Linked DNA regions of Homo sapiens. The protein of the gene in region 4 purifies or fractionates together with the protein of the main gene of each other region. This does not show direct contact. Each region holds a gene or a part of one and is shown on either strand. Other genes may lie near its edges. The genes, in order: EMILIN3, MAN1A1, PCSK1N and MMP10.

Region 1 (6,987 bases), on a different chromosome or scaffold from region 4:
TCACTGTCTTGTAGCCAACCTTGTATTTGGGTCTGAGTACTGTGCGGTACCTGGGCCAGGGAGGGCAAGAGAGTGGGATCCTGCACCTGAGGGCTGTGCTTCTCCCCCTAGCTGGCACTCAGGGCCGCCCTCAGACACTTGCATAAGGCTGGGTATCTCCCCACCTCCATAGCACCCCCAGGGCTGTACTTTTTCTGTGCTTAAGGTGACAGGGGTGGGTAAGGGCAGGCCTTCCTGAAGCTCACAGTCATGTTAGGGAAGGATGCAGGTAGAAGTCCCACCCATCCTGGTAGCTTGGAGAGAAGCAGGAATTTTGCCCCATCCCTCCCAAGACCACTTGGACCCCCTCTAGCTCAGGCTGCCATGAGAAATTCCACTCAGGCTGCAGTAGCACCTGGGAGAATCAGACACAGCCCCAGCCCTCCCTGTGGGCAGGGAGGGGCACTGCCCTGGAGCTGGCGCTGGCAGCCCCCTCACTGCCCTGGGGGCCACTCTTGGCTCCTACCTGCTCCCCTTAGTTCTTTCCACTCCTCTCTAGCCTGCTCCGGGACCTCGGCTCTGGTCAGAGAGGCAGATGGACGGGTACCTCTGATTGTGAGCAGGGAAGGGAAGGTCCAGGGTACAGGCAGGCTCGCGAGGGTCCATGCCCTCACTGTTCAGCCACGTACCTGTTCACCCACTGACACACCGGAGACAACAGGTTTGTTTCCACACACACACGTGAACCTCTCCAGGTACAGAGCTGTGCATCCCATGTGCGTGCAGCCCTGCTGCTCCGGCTTCCTCTCCCTGCCCCATGGCCTGCCTCCTTGTGGTCACCACAGTCCTCCCTGGGCCTGCCAGGCCCCCCTGTGGCATCACCCGTTGCCTAAGGGGCCCTCTGCTCCCTCCTCTCCCCTCACCTTCTGCCTCTGTCACTTCCTCCTAGCCTTGTGCTGCCTCTGCCCCCAGAACCTTCCCCTTGTCCCTCTGTGGTTCCTGGGCTCCAACCCAAGCCTGCCCCTGTCTGTGCGGGTGATGCTCTGCTGCAAGCCCAAATCCCTGGGGTCCTCCTTGGCACCCTCTTTTCTGGGGCCGCCTTCTACTCTGGCCTGTATGGGGGCTCAGGTGGGCTCTCTGGAGTCCAAGAAGCCCCTTGTGGAGTTGGCAGCTGCTCTCAGCTGAAGGCAGGACTGGCGCTTGTGCCAGGGGATTCCAAGTGTGTAGGTGAGGAGTGCACTTACGTGACTGTCCCGGGGCACTTGGGCCCCCATCTACACTGCCGGTATTCAGCCTTTACGTAGCTCTCCGCTCCCTCCTGTAGGATGCAGGTCACATTCCTGTGCACCACATAGGCACAGAGGGCCCTACAGGAGAAAATGGCACCCCTGGAATATCTGGCTGAGCGAGGCCCACAGAGGCGCCTACCCTCCCACCTCCATCTGTGGGCCTCAGCAGGACTCCAAACTCCCATGTCTCTTCTGTCTGTTCTCTGTGTCCCTGGGAGCCAACGCCCTTGGTCTGGGGTCCAGCCCCGCTGCTGGTCTCTGATTCCAGCCTCCGTGATGGGTGGCCCCTGGGCTAAGCACTATTTGGAACCAGGAGCCTGATGTGGCTGCCCCTCCCTGCGTGGGGAAGAGGCCAGCCCGGATTCTCCCTCAAGTGCCCTGCCACACCCCCCCATCCTTCGCTGATTCCAAACTCCTTATCTTGGCATTTAAGGCTTCCGAGTCCCCACTCAGTGACTCCTTTGAGAGCACCATGTCTTGTCCTTCCTCCCTGCCTGGCTCCCGGGGAAATCCACCTCTCCTCGTAGTTTTGCAGCCCCTGCCTTTGGTCCTGTTCCCTTACTCTCAGAGCAGTTCTTGTACCACCTCCTCCAGGAGGCTCGCTGTGATGTACCCAGGCCCACTGAGTGTCGGTACTCTTCCTCCTACAACAGCTCTCAAATTCAGCTAGAATTCAAGTTCAGCCAGCACCCCAGGCAGAGCCTCCAGCCCACTTAACTGAGGCCAGTTCGCAAGCCACTGCCCACGAAACACCAGAAGCTGAGGCGGGGAAAGCAGGCTCCTTGATGAGCCACAAGGGCTGAGGAGGTGGCTGCCTGGCATAAGCCGACCGCTGTGGACGGCTGTGCCACAGCACAGGCCCGGAGCCAGGAGCCCGCTCTGGCTCTGCAGCCCGGCCACGCTGGGGCTCCCATGGGGTTGCTGGGGCCAGGCTGACTGCGAGAGGGCAGCGGCCGCCCGGATGCGCAGCTCTATCTCCTACCTGGCCGGGCCAGGGGAGAGAAGGGAGGCCCGGGGCGGGGGAGCCCCGCGTGCTCAGCGCGCGGACCGCCTTTCCTCCTCTCCCTCCACCTGGTCCGCTCGCCCGGAGTCTGCACACAGCGCAGCTGGAAAATGTTACTTCGCTGGAAAGGTTTCCGCTGGCACTGCCAGGATCCCAAGCCGCCGCGCCAGGCCCCCTCGGTTCCTTTTTCCTCGCCAGCCCCGCAACCTCCCGGAGCGTAGGGCGCTCGCCTGGGCAGGGGCTCGGCCCCGGGCGCCGCCCCCTCTGTGCAGCGGCCTCGGGGTGCCCGGGGCCTCGACGCCCCCCGCGGGTGCGGGCAGGTGGGAGCGGCGACGCGCGCGGGCCCATCCCTCCCTCTTCCCGCCCGCCGCCCGCCCGCGCTTACTTGTGCGGCCCCGGGCGCAGCCGCGGGCGCCATCCCGTCGTGTAGAGACTGTAGCGGGAGGCACCGGGCGGCGCAGGCCGCGCCAGGAGCGGGGTGCCCCTGGCCTGCGCCCCCGAGAGCAGCGCCGCGACGGCGCACAGCCAGACGAGCAGGCGGCGGCGGCCCATAGCGGCCCCCGCGCCTCTGCCCGGCCCCGCGCGGTGCCCCCCGCCGGGTGTCCGCCTGCAGCGCCGCGCCGCCCCCGCCGCTGGTCGGCCCGGGTCCCGCCCCGAGGGTCCCGGGGTCCCCTTCGGCCCCCGAGCTCGCTGGCCCGGCCGCCTGGCGCTTCGCGGCGGCTGCGTCCCGCGGAGTGGCCGGCGCTGCTAGCGGCTGGGGCCGCGGAGGGGAGGCGGGAGGCGGGCTCTTTGCGGATTAGCATAAACTTGGGGCCGCGCCGCTCGCCGCCGCCAGCCCCTCGCCCCAGCTCCGAGCGGACGGCCGAGGAGCCGCCTGCGAACAGGAGGTTCCAAAGGGAGCAGCCCCAGGTGGCAGGGGCGCAGGCCGCCGCGCCCTGGGAGGCCCCCCGAGCACACCAGCCACTCTGTCGCCTGCGGGCACGGGGCGAGACGCAGAGAAGCGGACCCCTGAGGCCAGCCTGGGCGTGGACTTTCCAGGAGTCGTCCACCCTCAGGATACGCTTGTCTTCAGAGTCCGTGTGAACCCGGGAACTGCTCTCCAGGGCTCTGGAGCCGAGATGGCCGTGACTGGGGGCACAGCAGCACCACCTCCCCCGCCACCTCTTTGGAATAGACCCCAGATCATCCCCGTTTGCTCGCTCTGCCTCCTGGCCCCATCATTGCCCGGGAACCTTAGTTTGATAACTCCGCTGACCTCTCCCCAGGCATCCCACCTCCCCCTTACCCCGCAACCTCTGCCACGTAGCCTGGTGGCCCGGTTGCACCTCTGGTTCTCTGGAGGCGCCTGTGTTGCCTCTCTGTCTTAGGTATGGGTTGCACCGAGCCCGAAAGGCCTATCACCGCCCCAGCCCAGCCAAAAGTGCTGTGCTTTTCGTGCAACTGAAGCTCTAAGCCGGCTGGTCAGAGAAAATCCTCAGGTCTTTCTCACAAGGCACTGCCGCGGTGAAGCCAGGCGTCGTCCACATTTTGCTTGTGAAGTTGACTCTTGGAACCCAAGAGTTGGGTTTTATCGTCGTCCTCATTCAGTATCACCTTGCTAACTCTCTAACCTGCACAGAGTCCTTCTGATTCTGTCATCAGAGCGGTACTTTCCTGGCCTTGTCTCATCCACACCGGTGGCTACAGCCGTCTGTGTCTTTGCCCCAGGAGCTGATAGGTGTACAGAACTCTGGGGCTTGCTTGGAGAGACCTCCCTCCAAATTGACCTTGAGATATGAATTAATGCCTTTTGGATAGGGTGATGGTTATCAAGGATACTGGAAGGGGCAGCTCCGAAACCCACATCTATTTCCTGCCCTTAGCTTTAGTGGCTTTTGGGTTCTGTGGGGCGGACATCTGACCCCAGCTAGGCCCATCCTGCTTTCCCCCAGGCTTTGGAATCAGAACACAGAAGCTGAAGGAATCCAGCTTCCAGGTGTAGGTTGTGTGAGTTTCTCAGGGCTGTGGTAACAGCCACAGACTCAGTGGCTTAACACACAGAAATGTATTCTTGCACATTTCTGGAGGCTAACTCCAAAATCCATGGGCCAGCAGGGCAATGCCCCCTCCAGTGGCTCTGGGGAGAAGCCTTCCTTGCCTCTTCCAGCCACTGGTGGTTCCTGGCAATCTCTGGCGTTCTTTGGTCAAGGATTCTTTGTAGCAGCATCACTCCAGCCTCTACTTTCCCTCCGCATATCCCTCTTCAGGTGACCTTTTTTTCTCTGTGACTGTGATCTGTGTCCTTTCCTCTTCTTTCTGTTTTTGTTTTTTGAGCCAGAGTCTCGCTCTGTCGCCCAGGCTGGAGTGCAGTGGCGCGATCTCGGCTCACTGCAAGCTCTGCCTCCCGGGTTCACGCCATTCTCCTGCCTCAGCCTCCCGAGTGGCTGGGACTACAGGCGCCCGCCATAATGCCCAGCTAATTTTTTTGTATTTTTTTTTTTTTTTTAGTAGAGACGTGGTTTCACCGTGTTAGCCAGGATGGTCTCGATCTCCTGATCTCGTGATCCGTCCGCCTCGGCCTCCCAAAGTGCTAGGATTACAGGCGTGAGCCACCGCGCCCTGCCTTTCTGGTTGTGTTTTTAAATTTGAGACAGGGCTGGGCGCGATGGCTCATGCCTGTAATCCCAGCACTTTGGGAGGCCGAGGTGGGGGGATCACCTGAGGTCAGGAGTTTGAGACCAGCCTGGCCAATATGGTGAAACCCCATCTCTACTAAAAATAAAAAAATTAGCCGGGCGTGGTGGCGGGCGCCTGTAATCCCAGCTACCTGGGAGGCTGAGGCAAGAGAATCACTTGAACCCTGGAGGTGGAGGTTGCAATGAGCCGAGATCATGCCATTGCACTCCAGCCTGGGTGACAAGAGCGAAACTCCATCTCCATAAATAAATAAATAAATAGAGACAAGGTCTAGCTCCATCACCCAGGCTGGAATGCAGCGTCGACCTCCTGAGCTCAAGTGATCCTCCTGCCCCCACCTCCTCTGTAGCTGGGACCACAGTTGTGCACCACCATGCACAGCTCATTTTTAAAATTTCTGTAGAGATGGGCTCTCACTTTGTTGCCCAAGCTGGTCACAAACTCCTGAGCTCAAGTGATGCTCTCACCTCAGTCTCCCAAATTGCTAGGATTCTAGGCGTGAGCCACTGCACCCAGCCCAGCCTCCTCTTCTTATAAGGACACCAGTCATTGGATGTACAGCCCAACATAACCTCATCTCAAATGATTACGTCTACAAAGACCCTATTTCCAAATAAGGTCACATTCTGAGGTTCCAAATGTTCATGAATTTTGGGAGGGGCACAATTCAATCCACTACAGGGGCACTTGGCTGGTAATGATAGGAGAGACCACGAGAGCTCTGGGGGAATCATGGGAAAGGGAGAAAGAGTGTGGTCAGGGGAGAGAGGGGCAGAGTCAGGGGCTATGTGGTGAGTAACCATCTGGGGACAAGCTGTGACTTCCCTATCTGCTTCCAGTAGTCCACCATTGGAGCTAGCTTGAATGGGTTTCTGATCCCAGCAACCAAATGTGCTCTACAGAGAGAAACTTCTCTAGTCATGAACTGTAGAAATGATCCCTGAAAGTATAGTCTTACAGCAACCACATGGTCCCTAAGACAGCCTTTCACTCTCCCTATAAAAGCACCGAATGTGCTATTATATGCTCCAACCTCTAAGAGAGATGTTATGAACCATTTTGCTGAGGGCAAGATACACCATATCCCCAACAAGCTCTTGATCTTGTAACCACTGACTTTGCGCTTTTTAGGAAGTGAGAAACATCTGAGCCAGCTCCTCATCCTAGGCTGGGTGCTGACTGCCTGGCAGCATTGCCCAGCCTGGCTCTGGGAGGAACTCCCCCACCCCAGAGGCTGTGATCTTTTTCCAAGTGGTCCCACCCCTTCCTCTCACTCCCTTCCCCAGCCCCAGATGTGGGGCCCAAAACTCACAAGGAAGAGGCTGGACCCTGTTTGAGCTTGGAAATATCCACGTCATAGGGGCTAAAAGGATAGCTGGACCCCACTTCCCCCTTTCCCAGGTGGCTGACATCAAACACCATGCTCCCTCTTTCACTGCAACAGTTTTGGGATCCAGGATCTGGGCCCCATTCTAGTGGGGGTGGAGGACCTCAGTACAGGGAGATGCTCAGGGTCTTGGCTGGATCAGGCCAGAGCGGGGGTCCCCCCATAGACGATGAGGCCACTTTGCATCTGCCAGACAGGAAACCTAGGGAGGCCAGAAGCAGAGGAGGAAAGGAGGCAGTCATGTTCCTCTGACTCAGACTGGAGTTTCTACACCTGGATGGAAACGGGCCATACACGGGAGTGGGAGTGCAGTTTCAGTTCACAGGGACATGCACAACCACACCCAACCCATCCCCCATACCACTATCATGCATGTGCATGAGTTTTTCCTTTCGTACAGATGGGGTCTCACTATGCTGCCTAGGCTAGTCTCAGACTCCTGGCCTCAAGTGATCCTCCTGCTTTGGCCTCCCAAAGTATTGGGACTGCAGGGGTGAGCCCTATGCATCCTGCCTTTCTTTTCTGTTCTTTTCTTTTTTTTCTTTTCTTTTTTTTTTTTTACGGAGTCTCACTCTGTTGCCCAGGCTGGAGTGCAGTGGCGTGATCTCGGCTCACTGCAACCTCTGCCTCCCAGGTTCAAGCAATTCTCCTGA
Region 2 (7,026 bases), on a different chromosome or scaffold from region 4:
GGAATCAGGTGCTTTTGCGATTAAGTATTTTATGTGGTAATACATATATTCTTTTAATATTATTATCAAGGCTTCTCAAGTAGTGTTGTAAAATAGTGGCTCAGTCCTCAGAAAAATTTTATTTTTCTTGACAGCTTAGAAATTTTTTAATAAAGTGTTAATTCATAGGAAAAAAATGGAAATTTGTAATCCCAAAGATGTAGCCATTATAAAATTGGTCTTTCTAACAAGAGGTCTGGGTTATTTTGACATAGGCGTACTTTTTTATTTAAATATAAATGCAGCTTGCTTTGTTCTGGTTAACTACACTGAGTATGACATTGGTTTCCTTTACAAGTCTTCACTACTTCACATGTAGGAACCAGAAGCGCCTTAGTGAGAACGTTGGCCTACATTTGGCACAGCCTTTATAAAGGCACATGATTAACATCAAAAGCAAACTAGGATATGATCCACATGGCCTCTTTTAGGTTTATTTTTCCTCATTGCTGTGAGGTTTCAGATTTTAACCTGGGGAGTTCTCCATATTTTATAGTTTCCATTCTGTCATCCTCTAATTACCATACTGGCAGACATTTTAATTATTCTAATCTTAAATTGGCCGTCTAAGATCTTGATGTTCAAAAAAAGACAGCTTTAAAATATTATTTGAAATATTTTCTTCCTAATTCCTAAAACCATACCCACACAACTTTTAGTATATTGTATTCAGACAAATCATTGACAGGAAAATCCATTAAGAACAAATGAAGTCAAAGTGTTTCCTGCTTCTCTTAGTAGTAAAAGCTAATTTTCAATCCACTGTATATTTTCAACTTAGAAAGCAAAGCTAGAACAACTAAATTTCTGTTTTGAGAAGTAGCATTGTCTTATACAGCAAAGTTTATTTCTGCTAAGTTGTACTTTAGAAGATTATTGTAACCAAGGGGAGGATGCTGTACACTATTGTTCTGGACAATTGATTACTGAAGATATGGCTACTCTGTTGTAGCTTCAAGTAGATTTTGGGAAGCATTTAATCCCAGAGTGATATGTTTTATTTGATTATTTTAATAACAAAATATTTTGAGCTTTCAACTGGCTATCATGGCCCTATCTGGAGACTACACTAGGAACTCACAATGGCAAATGATACCTGGGCAGAAGACATATCAGACACTTACGATTCTGAAGGCTTCATCAAACCAGTTTTTTAAATCAATTATACAAGGATTAAATCACAAAATATATAGTACTCTTTTTTCTAATCAATTATCTGTATCCTTGACACAGTTTTTTCAGATCTACTAAAGACTATCCTTCTTTGTATTTATTTATATTTCCCATGGCCACACAAAATTATTGCTTTGAAGGTCTTGGAATTTCATTGTAGTTTTTATTAGGAGGTAGCAACTTGGTCCGAATCATGCCAGAAATACTTTATTTAGGATCCATAACAGGGTAATAATGTTTCTCTAATTCATCCTCAAAAGCTACTACTCTTGCCATGTAGAAAGAATAATTTCTTAGGTGATGAACAAGTATCTGCTTGAAGGACTTTATTGCAATTTGTGTTATGAGAAGTATAAATAGCTAAGATGTTCAGTCGCATAAAATAAGAATGAAATATTAATGTAATAACTAAACCATCAATAACATTAGCTTAACCACGGTTAATGAGCACAGTAATATGTTCATTTATTTCTTACCATCTTGGTTTCATTCGTTTATTTCTAATAAAGGTAGGAAAGGTTTTAGCTTCCTGTGTGTTCATTTTCATTCATTCTTCTCTATCACAAGTTTTTTTCTGTGTCTATTATTCCCAAATGTGCTTCCTAACAAATCCCTCTCTCTTGATAGCAGTGTACAGGTATAGACACAGTCATGTCCTTTTTCCTTCCATGAAGTAATTGTGGGGCAGTGGGGAGAACATTTTCTGTTAGAGTAATTGGAGATTAGCAATGCCAAACACACTTTATTTTTGCTTTTTAAAATATAAGGCATATTTTACTTACCTGTCTAGTTTAAGAGAATATCAACAGACCTGGGATAGAAATAAAAGATGTTTTATAAATCATTTTTGTAAACATTATCATTTCTCCCAAATTTAAAGATTTTTCTGATTTTTAAAATATATACATTTATTCATTATATAATAGTGTGCTTTTTAATAGAAGTATTAGAGAGGAACTTGATTCAAGCGTCACCACTTTGGAGATGTAAATGATAATTATAAATGACTCTTATCAAGTGCCACTTGCATTAGTGACTGCTTTATAAACAAAATGTGGCAGAGTCGTATCAGGAGATCCTGTTGTTCCCATTTATGGATTAGGATGCTGAGATTTAGAGATATAGTAAGCAAATTGTTCACTCCCACAAATTAGAGATAGTGTCAGAGCTGGAATTTGAAGCCAAGTCTTCTGGCCCCAGAACACCTCCTCTTTGCCACTCTATTTTGTTATCCCTCCAAGCCTACAGAAGTGAAAGGAAGAGTTCTGCCACCATCCTGGATCTCATGCACAAATATGCTGTGTTCTTCATCCACCTTAGGGCCTGGGCTGTGTTATTTCACCACTTATGGAAATGAAAATGTACCAAACCAACTATTACTGCTGCACAGTGGCCTGTCTTTGGGAAGGAGAAAGTTTTTTGAATATGAGGAATACAATGTTTGGTCACAGAACCAAGCAAAACCAAATGTGCTGGCGCAGCAGTGTTAATTCTGACTAATCAAACAAATAAGGCATAAACTAGAGGAGGAATACAGAAAGCAATAGCATGTAATTTCAGGTTGAATGGATTTTTAACACCAAACTCTGATTGTCAGGTGTATTCTATTCTTTTTTTTTTAATGTTGGGCATATTTTTAGTATAAATTTGAGAAGAGATTACAAAATGTTAAAAAATAAGTGTTTTTCACAGGCTATCGAGACTCATTTGATCCGCAAGTCTAGCAGCGGACTAACTTATATCGCAGAGTGGAAAGGGGGCCTCCTGGAGCACAAGATGGGCCACCTGACCTGCTTCGCGGGGGGCATGTTCGCACTCGGGGCTGATGCAGCTCCCGAAGGCATGGCCCAACACTACCTTGAACTCGGGGCTGAAATTGCCCGTACTTGTCATGAATCATATAATCGAACATGTGAGTACATGTTATTCTTCATTTATGGTCTATTCCCACATGCTTTGATTTAATGCAGTTTTGTCATTGCTGCCCTCAAAAGACTATCCGCTCTGCCTATGAAGCTTGATGATCGTGATTAATGTCTCAAAGGAATGTATATTTTATTTTAAAAGGCAATGCTTTTCTTCCTAAAAATATCTACCTTTAGTTTACCAAGAAACAAAAATCCAGGCCATAAAGAGTTAAAGCCAGCCTAATTTACTGACTTCTGCTTTTGCCAATAACATTGGGCAAGGGTCTCTATCTCCCTGCAAAGAGAAACTTAGCATTTTATTAACCATTATTAATCTTCTCCACATCCCCCATGAAACAGATCATGAATCCCACTCCCTTCTTATAAAATAGGAATTTGAAACACAAAGTGTAAATAACTGGCCTTCTGTTACGAAATTACTTAGGATTGTCAACCACTAAGTTTCTGGCTAACTCAAATGGTATTTCATGGTGCCTTGTATCTGCCTGGTGGGTGCTCAGTAAATGGGGGTTAAATGAAAAAAATAAATTGTTAATATTTTCTAAAATGGACTCTTTTCAATGACTAAATTGTTTAAGTATATGAATATTATATATTACATGATGTTTATAACTCGTTTTTAAAATGACTACTTTGACATTTCTCTTCAGTGTTGTTAAAGTACAGTCAGACCTTCGTATCCCTGGGTTCCACAACTGCAGATCAGAAATGTTCCCAAAAAATGGATGGTTCTGTCTGTAGTGAACATTTATAGAGTTTTTGTTCTTATCTTTATTCCCTAAACAATACAGTATAACACCTAGTTACATAACATTTACACTGTATTAAGTAGTATAAGTAAACAAGGTGATTTAAAGTATATGGGAGGATGTACCCAGGTTGTATGCGAATACTTTGCCATTTTATATAAGGGACTCAAGGATCCATGGATTTTGTTATCCTCGGAGGGTCCTGGAACCAGTCCCTCATAGATACTGAGGGATGACTGTACTTTCTAGTTTCATTTAAGTTATTGACTGTAAGCACTGTCCAGGAAAATAACCCTTATTCATTCATTCCATGTCCTTTAGTTATGAAACTGGGACCAGAAGCTTTCAGATTTGATGGTGGTGTTGAAGCCATCGCTACAAGACAAAATGAAAAATACTACATCTTACGGCCAGAAGTTATGGAGACTTACATGTATATGTGGAGACTGACTCATGATCCAAAGTACAGGAAATGGGCCTGGGAAGCCGTAGAGGTGATGTTTTAATTTGCATGTTTCTTATAGATAAATTTCATAGTAAAAAATGTTCAGTGATACCCATAAATCAGGCTTATCAACTTTTCTATAATTTTTAATGCTTCGACCAGGATTTTTTCCACCCAGGACTGTGTATTTTCATTGAAGTCATTTTATATCCCTGGCTTCAGCTTTGCTTTGTATAACATTGATATAGATATATCTACTGATAGACTTAGATATTGAAGGAGATAACTAGAAAGGCATAGTCTAAAATTAAGTTCCCATTAATACAAAAATGATGATCTCTTAATTCCACCTAAGGGTTGTTGGCAGCTTGGGGTATTCACCTCTATTTCAATAAACCACTTCATGTTTTTTTCTGTCTTTGGGCTTTAAAATGCTAGTATATGCTTTTACTTAGAGTAAATAGCTACTTAGATCTAACTTTTAGAAAGCACTTATAGAAGAATTACTTTGTATAAGGATATTCCTTTACCAGTCTCAGGTTTCTTGGAATATCTATAAGCTTTCCATCTGCCCAGTGTGTTGTTTTGTCTGTCACCTCTTGGGTCTCTTCCTGCTGAGGATAGTATACCTCCTTCCTAAACCAATCTAGTGAATGCTTTGTGTGCCGAATGCCTGAGGAGGCAACCTGCAGGATATGCATCTAACAATGTCTGTCTAATTGTAAGAGTTATTATTCCTCAAGGAGTGGGAGGGAATTCAGGGGATAAGAACAAGCAAATTCTTTAATTACACTCTCATTCTCTAGCACTCTTTGTTAGAAAGTTAGCTATCTTTAAAAACTGTCCATGAGGAATGACTTCTCTCAGGAAATCTAAAATGAATATTGCCTTTGGTAAAATTTAACTAATATCTTAGGAAGCCATCGGTGAATCTTGCTTATTATCCTCTTCATTTAATATGTGTCTTATCATTAATCATCAGTCATTTTAAATAACAGCAATTCTCTAGGCCTCTTTGAGGGGGCAGTTTTATTACATTTAATCAGTAGTCATTGTAATTTCTTTACATTTCTGTTTTTTTCCTCTGGAGAAAATGTTAAAGTTGAAGCTTTTCTAAACTTTGGTGATAGGGAATTGTTTTGGTCTTCAATTGGCCAGCAAATGAATTGAATATTTTAAGTTGAAAATATCAGGAATGGTGTGTTCCATCAAATCTAAAACACCATAATTAGTAAGAAGCATCATTATTTTATATACCACTAAGAAAAATAACACTACCAATTAAGTTATGACATCCATTTTATAGATGTTAGAATGTACAAAATGTATGGCCGAGAAGGTATCAAAAATGGGAAGTAAGCAAATTCGTATTGCCAGGTAGACAGGATGCTTTGGTTTGCTGTGTTCTTCAGGGGGTTGCTTGTTTATGAGATCATAAGGTTGGTTTATGTGTTATGATTTTTATTTCTTGTCAACTCTTTAACATAATATATGACCTGAAATCGTTTCCCTGTGTCACAACACTGAGGTCTCAATTTTGGGGATGCCCCCAGTAACCTCTGCTAGAACCTGAGCTATAGTGGTGAGCCAGGAGTGCTGTAGGGTCTTGCATTTTTTAAACCAGAAAAACTGGGACTTCGAAGGCATGGCCGCACGTTTTTCCCCTGGTGTTATGCCCACCCCCGTGGCCTCCTGTGTTTCAGCAGCAGCCCCGCATATGCTTGCAGCTCCCACCTCCAGCACTTGGCTGTTCTGATGCATACTTGAGACCACAGCTGGAAACCATGTCAGGAAAAGAAGGTGGAAGAGCTTTTCCCTAGCCAGCTGGCTGTGGTCTGGGAAGTGCTGGGGAGTTAATGGCTGTCAACCAAGGAGGTTTTGGAGTTGGTGGATAACTGTCCCAGTCTTCTTTCCTTCAAGAATCATTCTGGAATGCATGCTACATGGTTCTTCAGAGGGTTTCTAGCAGGAGTGAGCCTCGTTGCACACAGTTGAACAATATGATTCATTGGCTCTTCTGTCCCTGTTTTGCTTTTCCCACTTGCCCACTTCCTGATGTCACCTCCCTGATAGACTTCCTGCATCCTGCGTCCAACCCTTGTCTCATGCTTTATTTTTAAGGGAACGCAAACTGAAACATAGGGGGTCTTAAAAATCACCTCATCCAGCTTTCCGCTTAAAGACAAGACTCCCCTCCATATCTTTGCAAGATAGCTGTTCCTCATCAACCCAAGGACTTTCCAGCAAAGGGGAATGTATCACCTAATAAAGTAACTCATTCCAATTGGTAATATTGAAGGTGTTAGAAAGTTATTTATTTTGAAGCCACAATTTACAGTGTTCTGTGCTCTGGGGGTACCAGAGGGAAAAAATCTCCCTTCTGCATTTCAGCTCCTCAATTATCCGAAGACAGCAGGTTCTGCCATCTCTTCCTTTCCTCATCCATCATTTCCCTTGATTTTCTTCTCCTGACCTGGTTTCCAGCTGTGGTCTTTTAGGGCTGAATAGTGTGAACCTCTCTTCTCTCTTCGCAGTGTGATTTTTTCACAGCTTATGGTCCAACTTGTTCTTTTAGTAGATTTATATTTAAAAAAAAAAAAAAAAAAAAACTGGGAGGCCAAAGTGGGTGGATCATGATCATGGTCAGGAGATCGAGACCATCCTGGCTAACACGGTGAAACCCCGTCTCTAC
Region 3 (7,240 bases), on a different chromosome or scaffold from region 4:
CCCACCCCCACTCCTGGAGACCGAGTTTCTTCATAAGAGTAGTGATGGTAGATATGACAGTTATAGATTTTTCCATATTTAATATTGTGGACAATAGGAACTATATGAATAAACTTGTTCATATATCATTTGGCATGTGTACAAGTTCATCTGTAGAATAAATTACCCAATGACAAATTTTCAGTTCAAGCAGTTTTCAAACAATTTCCACAAGTTTAAAGAAATAAAAGAGGGTACCAATAATCTGAGCAAGGAATAAAAGATCATAAAAATGACTGTGAAGGTTTGGAAAAGAAACATACAGGCCACATATAAATATGTTTAAAAGGAGTGATGCCTGCAACACAAATAGTCAATGAAAGAGTAGTACACAGAAGATACAGAGAATTCCTAAAAAGTAGTAAGAGAAAAACAAACTCATACAGAAATAGAAAAAATACATGATCGCCTATTTCACAAAAATGATTACTAAACATATGAAAAATTGGGCCACGTGTAGTGGTTCATGCCTGTAATCCCAGCACTTTGGGAGGCCAAGGCAGGAAGATCGCTTGAGGCCAGGAGTTTGAGACCAGCCTGGTCAAAATGGCGAGACCCTGTCTCTACAAAAAATAAAACCAAAAAAAATGAGCGGGGCACAAGCCCATAGTCCCAGCTACTTGGGAAGATGAGGTGGGAGGATCACCTGAGTCCAGAAGCTCAAGGTTGCAGTGAGCCCAGATCGCACCACTGCACTCCAGCGTGCATGACAGAGGAAGACCCTGTCTCTAACAAACATAAAATAAAATTAAAAACCTCATTAGTAATCAGGGGAAAGCAAATTAAAATGCCAGGGAGATACTATGCATAATATAACCAAAAGATTGACCCAAATCAAAAAGTCTGATAATATGAAGTGTTGATATGAATGCAGAAAAATGGGAACTCTCATACTATGCTGGTGAGAATTAAACTGGCAAAGTAATTTTGCAGAGCGGTTTGACAATATCTAAAAAGATGCACATATCCTATGACCCACTCCTGGGATGTCACTCCCCAGAGCAGCTTTGGCACATACGCTACTGGTCACAAGTTCGTGAAAGATGACAGCAGCACTGTTCGTAATAGCATAAAAGGGCGGGGGAGAAAGAAAAGCCTGGAAACAGTCCAATGTCCACTGACAAATTGAGAATACATATATAAATCATGATGTCCTCATAGGATGTAATATTATGCAGCAATAAAAATAAATGAATTACAGCCACATGCATCAACTTGGATGAATCTCGTGACCAGAATAGAGCCAAGGGAAAAAAAAACGTCAAGTTCCAGAATTTCACTGCAGACTGCCTGAGACTACTAGACACCCTGAGGACTTCCTAGTGACCCCTAGTGACTACGAGGAACCAGTCACCCAGTATGATTCCGTTTCAATGATGTTCAAAAGCAGGAAAAACTAAACAATGGATTTTTTTTGAGAGCTACACATATGTGATAAGCTACAAACAAAAGTAAGGGATCAATGGACAGAAAATACAGAATAAGGACTGTGTGGGGACAGGGGCTGCCATGGCGAGGGGCACGCAGGGGCTTCTAACTCTTGGTCAGGCTCTATTTATTAAGCTGAGTGACTGCTACACGAGAGAGTTATTTTGTCATCATTCTTTACATTGTACATATATATTAAACACATTGTTACACGGATATAAGGTAACAGTTTTTTTTAATTCCCATCTTTGATGCAGACAGTATTGAAGAGCTAGAGGAGGATGCCTCTCCAAGTGCCCTTGCTGGCGCCCACCACTCCTCAGTCACCCCGGGGTATCACACTCACCAGCAATCACAGCCTCACACACACTCATGAGGACTGACAGGCCTGGAGATGTCACATATACAGCCCAACACTGCCACAGCCACATGCAAGGACCTGCACACGTTCACATCCGCAGCTGCTCCTGCAGTTACAATCGCCAAGCCACCCAGGTGCAAGGACATGCACCATCCTTAAAGACACAATGCAGCAGAGAGACATCATGGCTCCTCTCCTCAGGATGACACAGCTCCACAAAGAAACGGAGAGAAACAGTCTCAGGAACACGCAAACGAAATCCCAGGCACTTGGTCCAACAGAACCACTATGGAATGTGCACACGGAGATGCGAAGACCATTCCCTCTCAAACACAAACGAAATCACACACACACACACACACACACACACACACACACACACACAGAGAGAGAGAGACAGAGAGAGAGAGAGAGAGACACGCCCATAGGCCAAGCCAACACACATAATAAGGATTCACAAATATCCACACGGTGTCACTGAGAAAACAATCGGACGCACAAAAGAATCGCGCACAGAAGTATCCCGGTATCACACACACTACACACCCAGACGCACCACGGCACCTTTCTAGGACACTTGGAAGCGCTCAAACCAAAGAACACACACTTTCAAGGACACGACACCTCCACACCGCTCTCCTCACATCACACGCACACACACTGATGCGCGCGCGCCCTTTCTTAAAGCGCCTTAGTGCCGTGGACAGCGTCACAGGCACCGGGCACGGAGAGGTGGGCAGGGCACGGTTACCGGCGGCGCCCCGGACAACGCCACCCGCACAGGCAGAGACCAAGTCAGGTCTCAGGTGTGCCGGCGTGGCCTGGGCGCGGACCGGCGGCCGGAGCCCGGGCCACCCTCGTCGATCTCTCCGCACGTCCCGGGAGCCGGCTCGGGCGGGGGTGAGGCGGCGCAGCCCCAACCCCAACCCTCGCCGGTGGCATCCTCCCCCAACCCCCACCCCTCGCCGGACTGGGGTCGCACCTTTACCGGCCGCGCGCAGAGCGCGGGGGGCGGCCGAAACAGGCCGAGCAGCAGCAGCACCAAAAGGCCGACGCCCCCGGCCCGCGGCCCCCAGAGCAGCGGCGACCCCGCCATGCTGCCCCAGCGAGCCGGGCTCCGGACGGGCGGACTGGCTGGCAAGTGCGCAGTGCCGGGGCGAGCTGGCGAGGCTGCGGCGCTCTGCGGCTGCGCACGCCCGGAACCAGGCCCCCCCCCCCCCGCCCCCACCCCACCCACCCGACCGACGCAGGCGCAGCCTGGGGAGCTGGCAGCCCCACCAGACCTCCCGTCGCCATGGAGATGCCCAAAGGGCAAGGTGGAGAGCTGGCGGTTGCCATGGCAGTCGGAGGGCAGTTGCTGGGGCAACCGACCTTACTGTTACCTTAGTAGACAGGAAAACAGGCAAGAAAAATTGACTCAGTGGAGTGGAATGGGGGTCTGGTCCTCATCTCTCTTCCTGGGGGAGGAGATGGACTTTAGTTTGTTCATTAGATAAATAGTTAATGGATCACCCGCAGTGGGCCCGGCCCGCGCCAGGGAGATGGGTTCAATCTAGGTGATGTGACCATGGACAGCTCAGTTGGCCATTCTAAGGCTCAGGCTCTCAGCGGCGTAAAGGGGTTACTACTGACAGCCTCCCTCAAAGTGACCTTGGAGGTTTAGAATGACATTCAGTAGGAGCTCCATAAATGCTCCTTTCCATCCTCTCCTTGTCTCTTTGTGTTTTTTTTTTTCTGACAGTGTCTCGCTGTGTCCTCCAGGCTGGAGGACAGTGGCCGGATCTCAGCTCACTGCAATCTCCACCTCCAGGGTTCAACCAATTCTCATGCCTCAGCCTGCCAAGTAGCTGGGACTACAGGTGCCCACCACCACGCCTGGCTAATTTTTGTATTTTTGTAGAGATGGGGTTTCGTCATGTTGCCAGGTTGGTCTCCAACTTCTGAGCTCAAGCAATCGGCCCTCCTCGGCCTCCCAAAGTGCTGGGATTACAGGCGTTGAGCCACCATGCCTGGCCCCAGCCCAATACTTTCATCTCTCCATGGCTCTCTGTGTTTATCTTTCTGCCCTTATGTGCCCACAGCTCTCTCTGTGTCTTCCTCTCCCCATATGTCTCTCCTTGTCTATGACTTTCTCTCCTTTCATCTCTCCAACCGCTGTCTTGTCTCTGTCTTTATTTTACTGTCTATATCTACTTGTTTTCCATAGATAGATATATACATAGATACATATATGCATAGACTTTACCCATATATTGTTCCAGAAATAAGTTCAAGCCACTAAAATGACATATCAAAGGAAACAAGATCTTGAAAAAATGTATGTGTATCCATAGGGGGAAAAATGTTGGGGAGGAAATGTCATCAATGGTTATCTCTGGGGAGGTAACTAATGGTTTGTTACTTTCTCCTTTATACTTTTCTGTTGTCTGAAAAAAAAAAATTACAATAGGCCAGGCGCGGTGGCTCATGCTCGTAATCCCAGCACTTTGGGAGGCCGAAGTGGGTGTATCACCTGAGGTCAGGAGTTTGAGACCAGCCTGGCCAACATGGTGAAACCCCATCTCTACTGAAAATACAAAAATTAGCCAGGCATGGTGACACGCGCCTGTAATCTCAGCTACTCAGGAGGCTGAGGAGGAGGAGAACTGCTTGAACCTGAGAGGCAGAGGTTGCAGTGAGCTGAGATGGTGCCACTGCATTCCAGCCTGGGCGACAGAGCAAGACTCCGTCTCAAAAACAAAAAAAGATCATCTGAATAAATGAAGACACAATACATGTTCCTGGATGAGGCAATTTCATTTTATAAAGATGTCAAGTCTATCCAAACTAATATATAATTTCTATGTAATTTCAATTTAAACCCCAGCTGAATATTTTAAAGAAAATCAATTAAATGTACTTTTTATTTTGTTTTATTTTTAATCCTACTCCTTCTGTAATAAAATGTGTAATAAAATTTGTTTTGGTTTGTTTATTTGTGTTTTGAGACAGGGTCTCACTCTGTCACCCAGGCTGGAATGCAGTGGTGAAATCACGGCTCACTGCAACCTCCACTTCCCAGGCTCAAGCAATCCTCCCACCTCAGCCTTCCGACTTGCTGGGACTACAGGTGTTCCCCACCATGCCCAGCTAATTTTTGCATTTTTCTGTAGAGATGGGTTTCACCATGTTGCCCAGGCTGCTCTTGAACTCCTGGGTTCAAGTGATCCACCCACCTTGGCCTCCCAAAGTGCTGGGATTACAGGCATGAGCCACCACACCTGGCCATATTTTTAAATGTATATAAGAGTCCATGCAAAAATTTGTACACAAATGTTCAAAGCAGCATTATTTATAATAGCAAAAAGTGGAAACAACCCAAATGTTCATCAATAGATGAACAGATAAGTAAAATGAGGTTTCTCCATATCATTGAATATTATTCAGCCATAAAAAGGAATGAAGTGAGGCCGGGTGTGGTGCTGTAATCCCAGCACTTTGGGAGGCCGAGGCAGGCGGATTACTTGAGGCCAGAAGTTCGAGACCAGCCTAGCCAACATGGCGAAACTCCATCTCTACTAAAAATATAAAAATTAGCAGGGCGTGGTGGTGCATGCCTGTAATCTCAGCTACTCAGGAGAATCGCTGGAACCTGGGAGGTATGGGTTGCAGTGAGCAGAGATCGCACCACTGCACTCCTGAGCAACAGGGAGAGACTCCGTCTCAAAAAAAAAAAATCTCATGTATCCCATAAATATACACACCATGTACTTATAAAAATTAAAGATTAAGGGGCCGGGCATGGTGGCTCACGCCTGTAATCCCACCACTTTGGGAGGCTGAGGCAGGTGGATCACGAGGTCAAGAGATCCAGACTATCCTGGCCAACATGGTGAAACCTCGTCTCTACTAAAAATACAAAAATTAGCTGGCATGGCAGCAGGCGCCTGTAATCCCAGCTACTCGGGAGGCTGAAGCAGGAGAATCGCTTGAGCCCGGGAGGCGGAGGTTGTAGTTAGCCGAGATCGCGCCACTGCACTCCAGCCGGGCGACAGAGCAAGACTCTGTCTCAAAAAAAGGAATTAAAGATTAAAAACATTTGATATGCATGGTTGATTATCCTAGGTAAAAAGAATTACAGATAAATACAAATATGTATACATGAAAATGGATATGAGTTTTATTTGTTTATTGAAAAGTTATAGGGGCGAGGACAAAAGACTACAAAAATTAAGAAATAAAAATAAAAAGTTATTACAGCTTATTAATGGTAATATTATAATTAATACATACATAATTTTATTTATCATACTAAGTTAATTGTATTTTGAAACTGTGGAAAATTTTTTAATTTATTGACTATGTGTAGATTGACTGACTTCGAGACAGAGTCTCGCTTTGTCACCAAGGCTGGAGTGCTGTGGTGCCATCTCAGCTCACTGCAACCTACTCCCCTTGTGTTCAAGTGATTTTCATGCCTCAGCCTCCCGAGCAGCTGGGACTACAGGTGCACGCCACCACATCTGGCTAATTTTTGTATTTTTTGTAGAGATGGGGTTTTTGCCATGTTGCCCAGGCTGGTCTGAAACTCCTGACCTCAAGTGATCTGCCTGCCTCAGCCTCCCAAAATGCTGGGATTACAGGTGTGAGTCACCATGCCAGGCCTGTATCTGTAGATTTATATTTCCATGTATAACTAACTACATACATATACTTATATTAATAAATTCTCTACTGGAAATTATTACATGAATAATGTACAAAAGATGTAAAATTAGAATTTGTGTCCTTTTACTATGAAATAACTAAATTATTGTTTTCCTAGTTCAGTGGAGGTTTCTTTTGTCATCAAAAATAATCTATCTCTCTGTGCTTTTCGACATATTCTTAAATCTTTTTTTGTTGTTGTTGTTGTTGTTGTTTGAGACAGAGTTTCACTCTGTTGCCCAGTATGGAGTGCAGTGGCATGATCTCGGCTCAATGCAAACTCTGCCTCCCGGGTTCAAGCGATTCTCCTGCCTCAGCCTCCCGAGTAGCTGGGATTACAGGCGTGTGCCACCATGACCAGCTAATGTCTGTATTTTTAGTAGAGATGGGGTTTTGCTATGTTGGCCAGGCTGGTCTCCAACTCCTGACCTCAAGCGATCCGCCCGCCTCAGCCTCCCAAAGTGCTGGGATCATAAGCGTGAGCCACCGCGCCCGGCCACTTAAACCATTTTTTAAAAGAGTCCTTCTTTACCTTTTTTTTTTTTTGAGACGGTCTCACTCCGTCACCCGGGCTGGAGTGCAGTGGCGCGATCTGGGCTCAATGCAACCTACGCCTCCTGGGTTCAAGAAAGTCTCCTGCCCCAGCCTCCCCAGTAGCTGGGACTACAGGCACGTGCCACCACGCCCAGCTAATTTTGGTACTTTTAGTAGAGATGAGGTTTCGTC
Region 4 (7,026 bases):
GAATTCCAGAAACATTCTTCATGACACATGCAGATATCTGCAAGGCTCATCTTCTTCAGTCACAGAACATGCAGGAAAAATTAACCATTTTGGCTCATAATACATTAGATGAATAATTATTAGATTTATTAAAAACACCCATATCTGTCTTCCCCCTATCTCGCCTAGCAATGTAACCAGCTGTTACTCTTTAATATGTGTGTCACCATCCTGGCATTGGGGTCAAACTCAAACTGTGATGATCCACTGAAGAAGTAGAAAAATCCTGTAAATATAGATAAGGAAAATGATGAGACATCTTCAAATATGTCATTTTGCAACACATATAACTTAGATTAAGTACAAGTTAATAATGGAGGGCATTTATTAAGTGATTACTCTATGCCAAGCACTGAGCTAAGTGCTTTACATGCTTTATCTCAATTACCCTTACAAAAAACTGTGATGTGTTATTAATGAGAACAAAACTAAAAATTAAGACGGTTTTGTAATTTTAACAAGGTAGCATCTGTAAGGAAGGAAGGAGGGAGGACTCCATCTCATCTGACTCCAAAGGAAGTGCTCTAAAACATTACGTCATACTGGTTCTAAAGAGATAAAATTCTATAATATTTTAAAACCTTGTTTTACTTTCTTTCCAACCTCCCCTCTTCTGCTAGGTTCTAAATTACAGTTTGGGAGACAACTAGACCCAAGAGAATCAGACAAATGATAAATGAGCCAGAGGTCCATTTCCTGCTTTGCATCCATCATGGTTAAGTCATTTTAGTAACAAGATCATCAGCCTCATGACCATTGGATTGTCAAGCACTGGCAGCTCCCTCCAAAATTCCTTCAGAGTAATCAAGAACAAGTTTTGCTTTCCTATTTGCCCATTACCAGGAATCACATTTGACCTATTTTGAGCATATGGGAGGACTAGTATTTTATTTACAAATGACTAATGCAGGCAATCGCAGACTGCAACAGAAGCCCAGACAAGGCTCCCCTGGGGTGGGATAGAAGAAAAGGGACAACAGGATGGGATAGAGTAGAATGACAACCAGCCATCAGTAAGCCTGGCTCACACAGATTGTATTTTTATACCAACATAGTGACCTGAAAGATAATGGCTTCTGTGTGAGGAAGTATCCTTTGATTTTATGTGCGGATATGAAACAGAGACTAGGAAGTTATTCAGGAAAACACACACACACACACACACACACACACACAAATTTAAACCCACTTTGCATAAATTGGAAAGTTAAGATTTTCAGGAATTTGGAGTAAAAAAGATATCAGACTGAATGATTTAAAAACTGTTTTGATTCTGCACTTTATTTTGAAATCATAAAAATGCCTGGAGATTCCTGCATGACAATGAAATAAGGGTCTTCTTACCAAATGCCTGTAATACAGCATCAACCTTAGGCTCAACTCCTGGAAAGTCATCAGCTATTAGTCTAGGGAAGCCTTGCTCCATGGACTGGCTATTTTCATCAAATCTAAACCAAATGAAAGAAATACAGTTCAATGATGTGCAGTAGTCCCATTACACACAATAGTATAATGTGATGTTAATTTTCCAGTGTGGAATCCTAGACAAACTTTTTAAGTTGTGTAAAAAAGTGTTAAACATTTTTAGAGCTACAAGAATAGGTTACTTTCCTGGGCTTACAAGTTTAACACATAAAACAATATTTTCCAGAAACAGGAACATTATGCCATTTTACAGAGGTTCCATACATATGTCTGAGGTAAATTTTCTAAGCCTGGACACACAGAAACCAAATTTCCCTGTGTCTACTATAAATACATAAAGACTGTGTAGACATAATGAATTCATAATGCAAAATTAATTAAATCACTTAGCTAAAAATAAACCTCTGGTTCTCAGTCACACTGGGACCCTGTAGATCCTGTCTCCAAAGCCTGCCACACCTGGGCTTCCTATGGCAGCCACATGGTGACTGGAAATGGAATAAGAGGTGAATGCCTTTGGACCTCAGCTGGCCTCTCCTGATGTCTTTTAGTGTCTGAGTATATGGCCCAGTGATCACCATTCTGAGAGGCCTTTGTATCCGGAAGGTAGAACAATAAGCTGTCTTCCTCATAATCATAAATTTTGAAGTTAGAGAAAGTTAGAGGGTGGGTGTAGGGTAGGGAAATATCCTTAAAGAAAGAAAATAATTTTCTTAATCAGGCTTCATAGAAAGTCATTTCTCTTGCATCTCACCTCCAGTATTTGTCCGCTGCAAAGAAGTATGTTTTCTTCTTTTCCTTGTCAGAAACAGCTGCATCAATTTTCCTTATGGTTGGAGGAAAACCCAGGGTATGGATGCCTCTTGGATAACCTGCTTGTACCTCATTTCCTCTGATGGCCCAGAACTCATTTCCTATTGAAAAAATAAATCCAAGACATTTTACTTGAAGCCATTGATTTTAAAAATAATTATAGTGCATTGTTGTGGTAAAGAGGAAGGCTTGGTTTTAATTCCAACCTAATAATGTCCAGTTCACAGCCAGTCCTTAATAAATACTCCCTGAATGAGCGAGTGAATGAATGAATGAATAAATGAGTAGATAACTCTGATTCACTGCCCTTTCTGTGTCTTATATATTTGTATCTATATGTTATAGTTTATTTATAGATCAGTTTTAGTTATTTCTTATAATTGTTGGTAAACTTTTAACCTGAATTTCTCACCTAGACCTCTCTCTCTTAAGTTTCATACCAATAGATCAGTTGCTTATTGGACACTTCCTTTGAGATATTTCACAGTCACCAATTCCAATCTGTGCTTCTTGTGAACACTATCGGAATTCATTCAAATTCTAGTGAGTTAGGACAATAAAATCCCATCAATCTCTCTGCATTTACTTTGTTACATCACTCTCCCAGACCCCAAGCCTGAATTCCTTCTTCGCACTCACTGCCAGATTCACTAATCTAAAATGTCCATCTGTTGTTTATCTCTCTTGCTTCGTCTGAACCGAATGACTTGTATCTGTCTGAGCAGTTCCAGATATGCTCTTACTTGGTAAAAACAATTTCTTCTTTCTTAAAGACCTTTCTACTTTCTGTACACCCAGCCCATCTCTGCACAACAATAGAGAACTTTAAGACCCATCCTAACATCACCTCCCCTAAGGGATCTTTGCTGAGTCCTGGGTATGAGTCAGGTGCTCCCATGGCACCCTTCCTTCTCTCAGTCCCAGCACTTGTCATATGTAGGCTGCCAAAGGCTTCATCTCTGCTGCCCCTTCTAGAATATGAGCCCTTTTCAGTCCTGACCTCCACCAATGAGAATGGCGTCTGACACAGTGCAAGTGATATGTAAATGTGAGATACATTACTTGATAACAATACGTTAGAGTTATGTAATCCTTTACAATTTCTACTGCAATTTCACATTCATTTGATCTTCACATAAGTGAGATTGCCAGAAATAAATATTTTTAAAATCTCCATAAAGCTTGACATTTAAAAATATTCCATTATCACCTATGAGTCTAGGGAAAAAATAAAAATGAGAAATTAAAGAATTAAAATTGAACAAAATGAAAATACTGCATATCGAAATTTGCTGGATGAAACAGAAGAAATGGTTATTTATAGGTATAAATGCTTGTATTAGAAAAGAAAAAAGTTACAAGTTAATAAGGTAAGTATCAAACTTAAGCTATAACAATAATAACAGGATCAATTCAAAGTAAACAAAAATTAAGGCAACAATAAAGATATGAACAGAAACTAATTAAACGGGAAATCAAAATATAATATAGAGAGTAAATAAAGCCAAAAGTCAGTCCTTTGAAAAGATCAGTAAAATTATTACATATATTATGAGATTGATGAAGAAAAAAGAGAAAGGCAAAAGGATTCAGTATTAAGAATGAAAAAGAAAACAAAACTTCAGCAATAATTCAAATTACAACAAAATAATTTTCCAAAAACTTTTTCTGATGGATTTGAAAACAGACAAAATTGGCAAATTTTTAGAAAAACATGTTAACAAAACTGACTCAAGAAGTAATAGAAACTCTAATAGCATATTACCAATAAAACAAATTGAAACAGTAGTTTAAAAGTCTGATAAAGAAGCCTCTATACCTGAATATCTCCATTAGTTAATTTATCTCTCCCTGCACTGATACTACATCTTACCGATTAAAGTTTTATAACACAGGGCTTTTCTCCTCATCTAATAAGATGGGTTCACCAGGAGCATCCTGGCTATTCTTGGCCTTTCCTCTGCCATATAAATTGTAAAACTAATTTGTCAAGTTCCATGAAAAATCTTTTGGCATTTGGTATTTGAAATGAAAATGTCTTGTATCTATAGATAAATTGACATTTTTACTATCTTGCATTTTTTATGAATATGGAATGCCACCTATTTTCTTAAGAGGTCTCTAAAATAAAGTTTATAATGTTCTTTGTACAAATTTTATTTAAGTGTTAGCACAAGGTCTTTCAGTAATCTAAACTTTAATATAATGGATAAAACTCATGTCAATAAAATTTTTGCAATAGGATTTATTCCAGCAAGTTGAAATTCTTATATAGTACTCACCTTTAAAAATAAAAACGGTGTCCCTGCTGTTAACTTCATATGCAGCATCCAAATATGATGGAAGAGAGGGCCAAAATGCAGAAATCAAATGAAATTCAGGTTCAGGGTTCCAGTGGGATCTTCGCCAAAAATATCTGTAATACATAAAATTACTTGCAATTGTCTTTCTCTTTTAGATATGTGAAAAAAAAATTCTTTTTTTTTAAATCCATGCTAATTCACCCATTCATAGAAGTCTGTATTAAACCATCCTCCTGCATGTGATTCCAGGGTAATGAAATCGATGGCAGGACTTGTGACTGGTTCCAGTAAAATTATTTAGCTTGGTTCCATTCTAAAAGTCCATAAACAGTGTGCATATTATGTCCTAATATTTTAAAAAATATTATGTGTATATTGATGCTTGTATATGAGTAGAACATTTTTGTAAAGAGTCAAAGGAAATTGGTAGCAGTGGTTGCACATATGAAGGGAGCTGGAGGACGGTAGGCCAAAGACTGGAGAGAGATTTTTTAACTCCGTATCTTTTGGTAGTGTTTAAATATTGTGCCACAAGCACATATCACTTTTTTCCAAAAGTAATTAATTTAAATAGTAGCATATATTAGTAAATGGAAAGATACCACCCTGCTTCTAAGGATCCACCAGTGCTTTCTGAAGAAGTTCCATGATATATGATATTTTAAAAAAATGAACGAAACAGATATAACTCCCTGCCTTAATCAAACTTACAGTCTAGGGACCAAGAATCATCCCTTATAAGTCTGTAAAAAATGATCTGGACAATTCTAAGAAGATGTTAAAAATTCAGCAAGAACTAGATCTGAATGATTTTAAAATGTAGAGGAAATTTTATATTTTAAAAAATCTCTGTCAAGCAGAAAAAGTAACTACTGGGTACTAGGATTAGTACTGGGGTGACAAAATTATCTGTACAACAAACCCCTGTGACACGAGTTTATCTATATAACAAACCTGCACATGTACCCCTGAACCTAAAATTAAAAAAAAAGCTCTGTCAAGTTTCTGTTTTTCTTTCTAAGCACTGTACATCAAAAGAATAGATAGGAAAATATAATTTTCTGGTCTGACCTGTCTTTAAAGAACAGATATTCTCCCCTCAGAGTGCTGATGGCATCGAAGGACAAAGCAGGATCACACTTGGCTGGCATCTCAGATCCCGAAGGAACAGATTTTGTGGGCACCAGGGGTTCCTCAGTAGAGGCAGGGGGAGGTCCTAAAGGAAACAGATTTGGGGATGCAAACATTAAAAAAAAATGTGATGCATCTGTCAATTTGTGTGCCTTTCAAACATTCTCAAAGTGCTTCAGGCCAAATCAGAAATACTTTAGGTAGCACTGGAAAGCTTTCTGGAGGACTGTCATTGTAGATCTGCAATGCCTAATTTTTCCAGCATCACTCACCGTAGAGAGACTGAATGCCATTCACATCATCTTGCGAAAGGCGGAACTGGGCGAGCTCTGTGAATGAGTTGTAGAGTGGGTACATCAAAGCTTCAGTGTTGGCTGAGTGAAAGAGCCCCAGGGAGTGGCCAAGTTCATGAGCAGCAACGAGGAATAAATTGGTGCCTGTATGAAAATCATAAATGTTCAGAATTCACCAGCTCTTTCTTCCATAAATACACATACAGAACATATGCCAGCTGTACAGGCCATCCTTGAAACCACAATGTCTTTTCAGTATTTGTGGATTGGTTCATTGATTGGCACATTCCATACTTTATAGAAATTAATGTGTTTTTCAAGGTTGACTTTAAGTCAATATATAAGACAGTTTTTCACCGTATCCCTCCCTAGATCCCTCCTTGGTCAGGAAAACTAAGACACTTTTCCTATATTGACAAATGAGAAGCATTATTTTCAAAAGATTTTTTTTTGAAAGGACAAGACTAATAGCATGTCAGTAAATATAACTCTTCGTTGTCTAAAAATAAAAAGTCATTGTTCAAATTTAGGAACACTTGCCAGTTGCAACCTTGGTTAAAATTAATCATATAACATTTACGTTCAAACTTTTAAGCCAGAAGACTGTGGTTATTTCTTGTGGGGTTTAGTCTGATTTTCTCTTCCTCCTCTTCATCATACTCAAGTAATTTTTTTTTTTGAGACAGAGTCTCATTCTGTCGCCCAGGCTGGAGTATGTGTCCAAGCGATTCTCGTGCCTCAGCCTCCTGAGTAGCTGTGATTACAGGCACGTGCTACCATGCCCGGCTAATTTTTGTATTTTTGTTGAGATAAGGTTTCACCATGTTGGCTAGGCTGGTCTCAAACTCCTGGTCTCAAGTGATTCACCCAACTTGGCCTCCCAAAATGCTGGGATTACAGGCATTAGCCACTGGTGCCTGGCCATAATCAAATAATTTTTGATTGTCAAAAATCTTCCCAGTAATAGGTGCCATTGGATGTGTACAATCTTTAGTTTAAAACAGAAACATGCCCAATAACAG

Evidence for each region.
Region 1: the proteins of MMP10 (region 4) and EMILIN3 purify together in Homo sapiens (affinity purification with mass spectrometry; 2 studies listed by BioGRID and IntAct, with this or other methods). This does not show direct contact.
Region 2: the proteins of MMP10 (region 4) and MAN1A1 purify together in Homo sapiens (affinity purification with mass spectrometry; 2 studies listed by BioGRID and IntAct, with this or other methods). This does not show direct contact.
Region 3: the proteins of MMP10 (region 4) and PCSK1N purify together in Homo sapiens (affinity purification with mass spectrometry; 2 studies listed by BioGRID and IntAct, with this or other methods). This does not show direct contact.

Annotation. Positions count from the first base shown.
Region 1 is NC_000020.11:41,363,812-41,370,798, forward strand, and holds the start of EMILIN3 (EMILIN-3 precursor), read right to left. Parts: upstream 3,008-6,987; 5' UTR 2,824-3,007; coding exon 2,657-2,823; intron 1,347-2,656; coding exon 1,224-1,346; intron 51-1,223; coding exon 1-50.
Region 2 is NC_000006.12:119,185,762-119,192,787, reverse strand, and holds part of MAN1A1 (mannosyl-oligosaccharide 1,2-alpha-mannosidase IA), read left to right. Parts: intron 1-2,904; coding exon 2,905-3,124; intron 3,125-4,210; coding exon 4,211-4,383; intron 4,384-7,026. UniProt on the Homo sapiens protein: Involved in the maturation of Asn-linked oligosaccharides. Progressively trim alpha-1,2-linked mannose residues from Man(9)GlcNAc(2) to produce Man(5)GlcNAc(2).
Region 3 is NC_000023.11:48,832,609-48,839,848, forward strand, and holds the start of PCSK1N (proSAAS preproprotein), read right to left. Parts: upstream 3,003-7,240; 5' UTR 2,925-3,002; coding exon 2,811-2,924; intron 1-2,810. UniProt on the Homo sapiens protein: May function in the control of the neuroendocrine secretory pathway. Proposed be a specific endogenous inhibitor of PCSK1.
Region 4 is NC_000011.10:102,770,629-102,777,654, forward strand, and holds part of MMP10 (stromelysin-2 preproprotein), read right to left. Parts: intron 6,149-7,026; coding exon 5,984-6,148; intron 5,797-5,983; coding exon 5,652-5,796; intron 4,694-5,651; coding exon 4,560-4,693; intron 2,379-4,559; coding exon 2,219-2,378; intron 1,488-2,218; coding exon 1,384-1,487; intron 266-1,383; coding exon 165-265; 3' UTR 1-164. UniProt on the Homo sapiens protein: Can degrade fibronectin, gelatins of type I, III, IV, and V; weakly collagens III, IV, and V. Activates procollagenase.